3 separate regions of the Homo sapiens genome follow, and regions 1 and 3 are each linked to region 2. The links come from fine-mapping of genetic effects on gene expression. A gene starts in region 2. Each other region holds a variant in brackets. All regions are shown on one strand. Distances are between the middles of the regions.

Region 1 (2,752 bases), 45 kb before region 2:
AGACACAGTGAGAAGGCAGCCAGGCTGTGTGTGCCACATGAAGACATGGTGAGAAGGCAGCCAGGCTGTGTGTGCCACATGAAGACACAGTGAGAAGGCATCCAGGCATTGATGGCCAGGAAGATGTTCCTCACCAGAACCCAGCCACGCTGGCTCCCTGATCTCAGACTTCCAGATCCAGACTTTGATAAATAAATTAAGCCATCCAGTCTATGGTATTTTGTTATGGCAGCCCAAGCTAAGACAGAAAGCATTCCTGTTTATAACAGCACCTTAAAAAATTAAATACTTAGTAATAAATCTAACCAAAGAGGTGAAAGACTTACATGCTAAAAACTATAAAAGGTTGCTGAAAGAAATTAAAGATCTAAATAAACAAAAAGATAGACCATGTTCATGGATAGGAAGCCTTAACATTGTTAAAATGTCAATACTACCCAAAGCAGTATTCAACGCAATCCCTATGGGTTACAATAGTCTTTTTAAAAATATATATAATTTTAAAAAATGATCCTCACATTCATATGGAATTAAAAAACTGATCCTCAAATTCATATGGAATTGCAAGGGGCCCCAGACAGCTAAAACAATCTTGAAAAAGAACAAAGTTGGAGGACCCACACTTCCCAACTTGGAAACATATGACAAAGCTACAGTGACTCAAATAGCATAGTGTTGGCAAAATGATACCATACAGGCCGGTGAAATAGAATAGAGAGCCCCAAAATAAATCCCTGCATTTCTGGTCAAATTATTTTCAGCAACAGTGCCAAGACCATTCACTAGGGAAAGCACAGTCTCTTCAAGTGGTGCTGGAAAAACTGGATATCCACATGGAAAAGGCTGATGTTGAACCTTTACCTAATACCATATGCAAAACTTAACTCAAATGGATCAAAGATCTAAACTTAAGAGCTAAAGCTACAAAATTCTTAGAAGAAAATAATGGAGAAAATCCTCATGGTATTAGATGTAGCAGGACCAGGGATATGACACCAAAGACACAGGCAACAAAAGAAAAAATAGATAAACTGAACCTCTTAAAAATTAGGAACATTTATGCATCAAATGGCATGATCAAATGAGTGAAAAGTTAACCCAGAGAATGGGAGAAAATACTTGCAAATCAGGTATCTGCTGAGGGATTAATATGCAGGCTCTGTCCTGAGGCTCTCTGGCATGAACCTCCGTCTGCTACGGCCCTCAC[T/C]GTCCGTGGGCTCTCCCTTCACAGGCCCCGCCGCACACCGCAGGTTGGTAGGAACCGCATATCTAGGTCAGCCAGGACTCTTGGTCACAAGCAGTAAAAATCTACTCTGGTCTTCCTGGGCAGCCAGAAAATGTGCTGGGCAGCGCCAGTGGGAGGCTAAGCCCTGGGGCCAGGAAGCTGCATCTGGCCCACAGGATGGCCATGTGTGGGTTGGCAGGTTGGCAGGTTGGCAGGTCGGCAGGCCAGGTGGAGCAGCCTTGGCTTGCCTCCGTACTCTCCAGTCTGGCTCCAGAGGCAGCTCTGCACAGAGCTCAGACCCAGGCTTCCTGGGGGAGCCAGCCGAGGAGGGTCCCTTTGCCTAGACCACACTGGATGAGGAGGCAGTCCCCCGGAGGAGGCCAGCATGGGGAGAGAGGCTGGGGTGGGCTGGACAGCCCAGAGGCCCCGACACAGCCTTTTCAAAGTCAGGCCAAGAAGCTGCCTTGGGCATGCATCTGAGGATCCAGCGCAGCGGCTTCTGTAGCCGCACCCACTGTCTCTGCCTGCTGTCTGGTGCCCCACTCCCGTCCTCCTCCTCCCACTGGAGCTTTGGGTTATGCAGCTCTGCTTCTCTTAGAAGGGCCCCGTTTTGTGGGTTCTCTGTGGCTGACTCCTGATTCCTGGTTACAGCTGAGGCCAGCAGAAGAGAGCTCAGAGTGGGCTGGTCTGGCTCAGCCCTGGTCTGGAGACTGACCCCAACCCGAGAGTCTCAGCCTCTTTCCAGGAGGAGCGGGATGCCTCCCCATCTCCCAGCAGGGAGCTGCATCCACAGACCTGTGAGCCAGGAGCACGAAGCCTTCACCAACTCCAGCGCCTGCTCAGGAAGCCCAGTCCACAAGGCTGAGGCTTGTCCTGCCAGTCTGTGCCCAGCGAGAAGCTGGCCAGGCTCCTGCTCTTGGAGAGGCCTGCAGGACCACTCCAGGACCCATGCCTAGCCTCCCTCCAACAGCCCTAGAAGGAGGTGCACTCTTGGGTCCACTTGGCCCCTCTCCTTCAACCGTCCTCCCTGGGTTGCCCCATCCCCTGGGCCTTGGGGGCTCCACTCCCCGCCACCCCACTCTGCCTTAAGCCGCCAGAGGCACCTGTGGCCCAGCCCCCGCCCCCTGCCCTGCCCTCTGCTTGCTGTTCTCAGGGCCACCCTCTCTCATGGCAGGTGGGGCCTGTCCTCCCTGCCTAGAATCCAAGCCTCTTAAGGCAGGGACTGTGCTGGCCTCACTCTACCCGCTGCTGTGTGTCTCCAGGGCTGAGAGCCCCTCGGTGCATGTGTGTTGCTGGGAGAGGTCAGGTCTGAGCACCGAGTCCAGCAGGGGCCCCCGCAGTGCTGGGACTTGGAGACCCCCCTTAACCCCCTCCCCTCCTCGGCTGGTGCTGGTGCACCCTCTGGGAGGCCTGTGGGGTCTGTCTTTCTTTGGGAGTCTCTCCGGTCCTTTCTGGAAGACCCACTAGAGGCCTCAGTGGGAGTCAGGAGCCCCCTCCAGGGCTGGTGCACCTGCTTTCTGGCCTCTG
Region 2 (2,752 bases):
AGGCGCAGATGCCACAGAGACCACGCTGCTACGAGGCAAAGGTCCAGGGGTCCTGTGTGTCAGATATCACCACTTGAGCAAAAAGCATGGACAGGAAATGGTGCAAGTTTCGTGTCACTCTGGAAAGGAATTCCTTCACTCTACTACCCTAAGAACGATTTTAAGCCTGGTCTAGCCTGGCATTGCTCTGGAGATGGGGTGAAAATTGAACTGTTGGGGATAAGGGGCACAGGACGCCTCTCACCAGGTTTTCTGCCGACTTCGGGGCACACATCTGGGCCCTGCACAGGTGCGCTCGGCCCAGAAACTGGGTGATGGGCGCCTTCACCTTGAAGTACATTTGGATGCAGTCCTCGCTCACCTCTGGCTGCCTCATCTGCAAGAGAACACCACCACAGAAGATCACAGACCCGGAGGGGTGGCCTCCCTGCCCAGAAGCACCACGGGCCCGCTTTCAGAACAGGCCCCCAGCACAGGTGGAGCCTGTTTCCAGCCCCATCCTCCATCCTGGCCCCTTGACTGCCCGGCCAGGAGCTGCCTCTCCCCAGCCCCACTCTGCATCCGCTGCACACCCAGAGGCCCTCCCTCTCCCTGTCAAAGCTGCCCTGACCGAGGATCCCGGGAACTAGTTACCTTCAGGGCCTGCTCTGCACACAGAACAAACAGGTCTGGGCTGAAGCTCTCTGAGGGGTCAAACTCCGATTTCCCTAGGTTGGCCGATTTGATCAACTCGTAGGCCTTCTTCAAGGACGCAGCATCTGTCCCAAACGGGTGGTTGAGGAAGGTTTGGTCACTGGGCTGGGAGAAGTGAGCCGGGCAACGCCATCCCGAAGGCCCCAGGCAGCCGCCTTGGGCCCCCGGGCCACAGCCACCGTCAGAACCTGTCGCCGCCAGGGAGCAGCGGTGTGGGCGCCTTCCTGTACGTTTGCTCTGGTCAGACGATCGGGAGGTGGGGGCTCCGGCTGTGGCCCTCGAGGGATCACCCATTGGGCGGGCTGGGATGAGAGGGTCCGGGGCCTCCCCGGGGCGGGGGTCGTGGCGGGTCCCGGGGCCTCCCCGGGGCGGGGGTCGTGGCGGGCCTGGGGTCACCTTGCTGGCTCTCGGCGCGGGCCAGCTCCTGCGTGATGACCAGGTCCATGGCGCCGGCGCCCTGCTCGTCCGCTCTCTCCGGGGTCCGCGGTGCGTCCTGCCGCCCACTGTCGGTTGGGTTCTCCAGCCGCGAGGACCCGGCCACGGTTGCCTGGAGACCGAAAGGGACGCGGACGCGGGGCTACGGGTCGGCGGCGGGGCCACACTTCGGGGAAGGCGAACAACGCCGCGCCCCCGCCCTGCCCCCCGCCAGCTCCGCGGGAGTGAGACACCAGGGCAGCGACCCCCGGCGAGGGGCGGGAAGAAGAAAGGGGAGGGAAGGCGGCGTGGGGGGACGCCGGGGGCTCCGCGCGGGCCTCCTCTCCCCGCTCAGGGCTCCTGTGTGCCCGGGTTCTGGTCCTGACCCCGGGCTCACCCTCCACCTTCCCCGGGAACTTCCGACTGCGTCCTTCGCGCCTGCGCTCGTCGGCTCATTCATTCATTCATTCATTCATTCATTCATTCATTCATTCATCCATTCAGTCAGTCAGTCAGTCAGTCAGTCAGTCATTCCTTCATTCTTTCGTTCTTTCATTCATTCCGTCATTACTTTAACAGGCGGTGATTTGCCCCTGCCACGGTGCTGGAAGTGCAGCGGGCACAGAAAGTCGCGCAGTGGAAATGCGGGCTGCGGGCGTGGATGGGGCCGCCGGGTCTGGGGACGAGCTAAGACCTGGCAGCAGGGGGTGGCCGAGGCGGGAGGAGCAGACGCAGAGCCCCGGCCCCCACGGAGAGGGTAGCAGCGCAGCCACCTGCCCCCCGGGGCTCCCCACCTCCCAGCCGGGGCTGCTTTCCGGCCGGGGTCCGGACGGCGCCTACGACCGACCCGAATTGGAGGCTTGGCGGGGCGCGCAGCCCCCGCGCGGGGAAGCCGGAGCCACTGAAGGACTTGGGTCGGCCTGGGGAGGGGAGGGCCCGGGACTCACCCCGGGGTGGGCACACTAGGGGAGCTCTAGGGGAGGCCCACCTGGGGTAGGCCCACCTGGGAGAGGACCCCCTGGGAGAGGCCCACCCACGAGAGTCCCACGTGGGAGAGTGGAATTCCACCCGGGAGAGGCCCACCTGGGAGAGGACCCCCTGAGAGAGGACCGCCTGGGAGAGGCCCACCTGGGAGAGTGGAATTCCACCCGGGAGAGGCCCACCTGGGAGAGGACCCCCTGAGAGAGGACCGCCTGGGAGAGGCCCACCTGGGAGAGTGGAATTCCACCCAGGAGAGGCCCACCTGGGAGAGAACCCCCTGAGAGAGGACCGCCTGGGAGAGGCCCACCTGGGAGAGTGGAATTCCACCCGGGAGAGGCCACCATACCTACATGGGATCAAATAAGCTGCCTGGACATAGTTTTGAAACCTGAACGTCGTATGTTTCTCAGGCTCCTAGAGCCCCACCCCGTCTTGAAGTTGGCAGCCTCAGATCCCTGCTAAATGACCATATTCCTTCCCAAAGACAGTTCTCAGATGGGCCTTTGTTGGTAAAGACACTCCACACATGGGTACAGCCTCGATAAAATATTTATCCCCTCAGAGAAAGTATATCCAAACATAATGTAGTAAGAGATTTCCCAAATCCAAGGGCATTAAATATTAAAACTCAGTTTTCTAGTTACACATTAGCCTTAAATATCAA
Region 3 (2,752 bases), 140 kb before region 2:
ATTGGTGGGTTCTTGGTCTCACTGACTTCAAGAATGAAGCCGCGGACCCTCGCGGTGAGTGTTACAGCTCTTAAGGCGGCGTGTCCGGAGTTTGTCCCTTCTGATGTTCAGATGTGTTCGGAGTTTCTTCCTCCCGGTGGGTTCGTGGTCTCGCTGGCTCAGGAGTGAAGCTGCAGATCTTCGCGGTGAGTGTTACAGCTCATAAAGGCAGTGTGGATCCAGAGAGTGAGCAGTAGCAAGATTTATTGCAAAGAGCGAAAGAACAAAGCTTCCACAGTGTGGAAGGGGACCCGAGTGGGTTGCCACTGCTGGCTCGGGCAGCTTGCTTTTATTCTCTTATCTGGCCCCACCCACGTCCTGCTGATTGGTAGAGCCTAATGGTCTGTTTTGACAGGGCACTGATTGGTGTGTTTACAATCCCTGAGCTAGACACAAAGGTTCTGCACGTCCCCACCAGATTAGCTAGATACAGAGTGTGGACACAAATGTTCTCCAAGGCCCCACCAGAGTAGCTAGATACAGAGTGTCCATTGGTGCACTCACAACCCTGAGCTAGACACAGGGTGTTGATTGGTGTGTTTATAAACCTAGCTAGATACAGAGTGCCAATTGGTGTATTTACAATCCCTGAGCTAGACATAAAGGTTCTCCACGTCCCCACCAGACTCAGGAGCCCAGCTGGCTTCACACGGTGGATCCCGCACTGGGGCTGCAGGTGGAGCTGCCTGCCAGTCCCGCGCTGTGCGCCCGCACTCCTCAGCCCTTGGGTGGTCGATGGGACTGGGCGCCCTGGAGCAGGGGGCGGAGCTCGTCGGGGAGGCTCCGGCCGCACAGGAGCCCACGGAGCGGGTGGGAGGCTCAGGCATGGCGGGCTGCAGGTTCCGAGCCCTGCCCCTCGGGAAGGCAGCTAAGGCCCAGCGAGAAATCGAGTGCAGCGCCGGTGGGTGGGCACTGCTGGGGGACCCAGTACACCCTCCGCAGCTGCTGGCCCGGGTGCTAAGCCCCTCATTGCACAGGGCCGGCCGGCTGCTCGGAGTGCGGGGCCCGCCAAGCCCACGCCCACCCGGAAATCCAGCTGGCCCGCAAGCGCCACGCGCAGCCCCGGTTCCCGCTGGCGCCTCTCCCTCCACACCTCCCTACAAGCTGAGGGAGTCGGCTCTGGCCTTGGCCAGCCCAGAAAGGGGCTCCCACAGTGCAGCGGTGGGCTGAAGGGCTCCTCCAGTGCCGCCAAAGTGGGAGCCCAGGCAGAGCAGGCGCCGAGAGCGAGCGAGGGCTGTGAGGACTGCCAGCACGCTGTCACCTCTCATTCGGACATCAGAGACCCTGGACTTGGGGTAGCTGTGCAGGCCCCACGTGGCAGGTGGCTGGGGCTCTCCGAGGTGGGGGCGGGGACATCTGAGATGGGGGTGGGGACGTCTCTCCACCATGGGGATGCAGACACCCCTGCCGGGTTCTTCTTTCCACATTCATGGCTCTGCTATGGCTGGGCCCTTCAGCCTCCCCAGGGAAGCTGTGTAACCAGAACAGAACCCGTGTTTCCTCTTGCTGGGCCATCCCCTCTGCAGCCTTGCTCACGTGGG[C/T]TGGTCCTCTGTCCACAGTCCTCCTCGTTCCTCTCCCCACCGCCTGGCCTCTTGCCTGGGTTGGAATTCCTCGATGAGCAGGACAGAGCAGCCTTGGGAACCACACCTGTCAACCCTGGAAGTGATTATGGGACCATAGCAGCCTGGGGCAGCAGGCCCAGGCCCCACCCTCGAAGCCCATGCAGACCTGCTCTCAAGGACTCTGCCTTGGAGGGGGAAACACGACTCTGGGACCCCTGCCCCCATGCGTGGTCCATATGGTCCTATGGTCCCACCGCGTCCACGGGATCAGGTTCTCTGGTGAGAACTAAACCAGGGGCAATGCTGTTGCTCGCTCATGTTTATGGAGTCCAAGGCGAGCTAGTCAGGACAGGAAGCTTCTGACCCCAAGAGCACTGAGGACCCAGGCTCCTCGCAACTGTGGCTGTGCCATCCTCAACATGTAGATTTCACCTCATAGCACATTATGGCTGCCAAGCTCCAGCCATCAAATTCCATCCCATCCTGCAGACAGGAAGGAAAAAGAGCAAGCCTTTCCTTTTATGGAGGTGTCTTGAACCAGAACTTAGTCAAATGGCCACACGTGTTGCAAGGGAGGCTGGCTGTGCACCTGGCCAGGAATGGGGGGTCTATTTCTTTTCCTTTTTTTTTTTTTTTTTGAGACGGAGTCTCCCTCTGTTGCCAGGCTGGAATGCAGTGGCAAGATCTAGGCTCACTGCAACCTCCACCTCCCAGGTTCCAGCGAGTCTCCTGCCTCAGCTTCTGCAGTAGCTGGGACTACATGTGCATGCCACCATGCCCAGCTGATTTTTGTATTTTTAGTAGAGGCCAGGTTTCACCATGTTGGCCAGGATGGTCTCGATCTCTTGACCTCGTGATCTGCCCACCTCGGCCTCCCAAAGTGCTGGGATTACAGGTGTGAGATTTCTAAGGGACACTGGGAGGCTGGCCGCACACCCGGCCAGGAATTGGGGGTCTGTTACTAAGGGACCCTGGTTCTCTGACTCCCTCCCATTTCTTCAGTCAGCAAGAACGGGGCCCAGGGAGAGAGGCACAGGGTTCTGGGAAGTCTCAGGCCCTGTCCCTGCAGGGCTGGGGCTCAGCGATGCGGAGAAGGGAGGGGAGCGACCCCTACAGCCCAAAGAGCAAAGCTACTTGTGATGGGACCGCTG

Which allele goes with the higher level. Alleles are on the strand shown, and positions count from the first base shown. SD is a standard deviation of normalised expression in the study named. Not every link is listed here.
For the expression in cerebellum of the gene that starts at base 1,224 in region 2, allele T in region 1 goes with a higher level than allele C (moderate effect, 0.72 SD a copy in GTEx).

The links.
Region 1: its variant is fine-mapped to the expression of CFAP46 in cerebellum (GTEx, PIP above 0.99). The same link has a PIP of 0.9 or more in cerebellar hemisphere.
Region 3: its variant is fine-mapped to the expression of CFAP46 in cerebellar hemisphere (GTEx, PIP 0.95).

What each region holds. Positions count from the first base shown.
Region 1 is chr10:132,896,224-132,898,975 of GRCh38, forward strand. CFAP46 (cilia and flagella associated protein 46) reads right to left here. Exons shown (of 58, transcript NM_001200049.3): 24 at 2,736-2,752. Among named protein-coding and RNA genes, the nearest start is that of CFAP46, 45 kb to the right of the region's middle. The variant T/C (reference allele first, on the strand shown) is at 1,208.
Region 2 is chr10:132,941,347-132,944,098 of GRCh38, forward strand. It overlaps CFAP46 (cilia and flagella associated protein 46), which reads right to left and starts at 1,224. Exons shown (of 58, transcript NM_001200049.3): 1 at 1,090-1,224; 2 at 634-758; 3 at 245-376. The coding sequence starts at 1,138. It overlaps LOC105378572 (a long non-coding RNA gene), which reads left to right and starts at 2,021. Exons shown (of 3, transcript XR_007062348.1): 1 at 2,021-2,752. LINC01166 (long intergenic non-protein coding RNA 1166) reads right to left here. Exons shown (of 2, transcript NR_120627.1): 2 at 2,621-2,752. RefSeq lists enhancers at 537-1,120, 1,121-1,704.
Region 3 is chr10:132,800,196-132,802,947 of GRCh38, forward strand. No RefSeq gene overlaps it. Among named protein-coding and RNA genes, the nearest start is that of NKX6-2, 15 kb to the left of the region's middle. The variant C/T (reference allele first, on the strand shown) is at 1,581.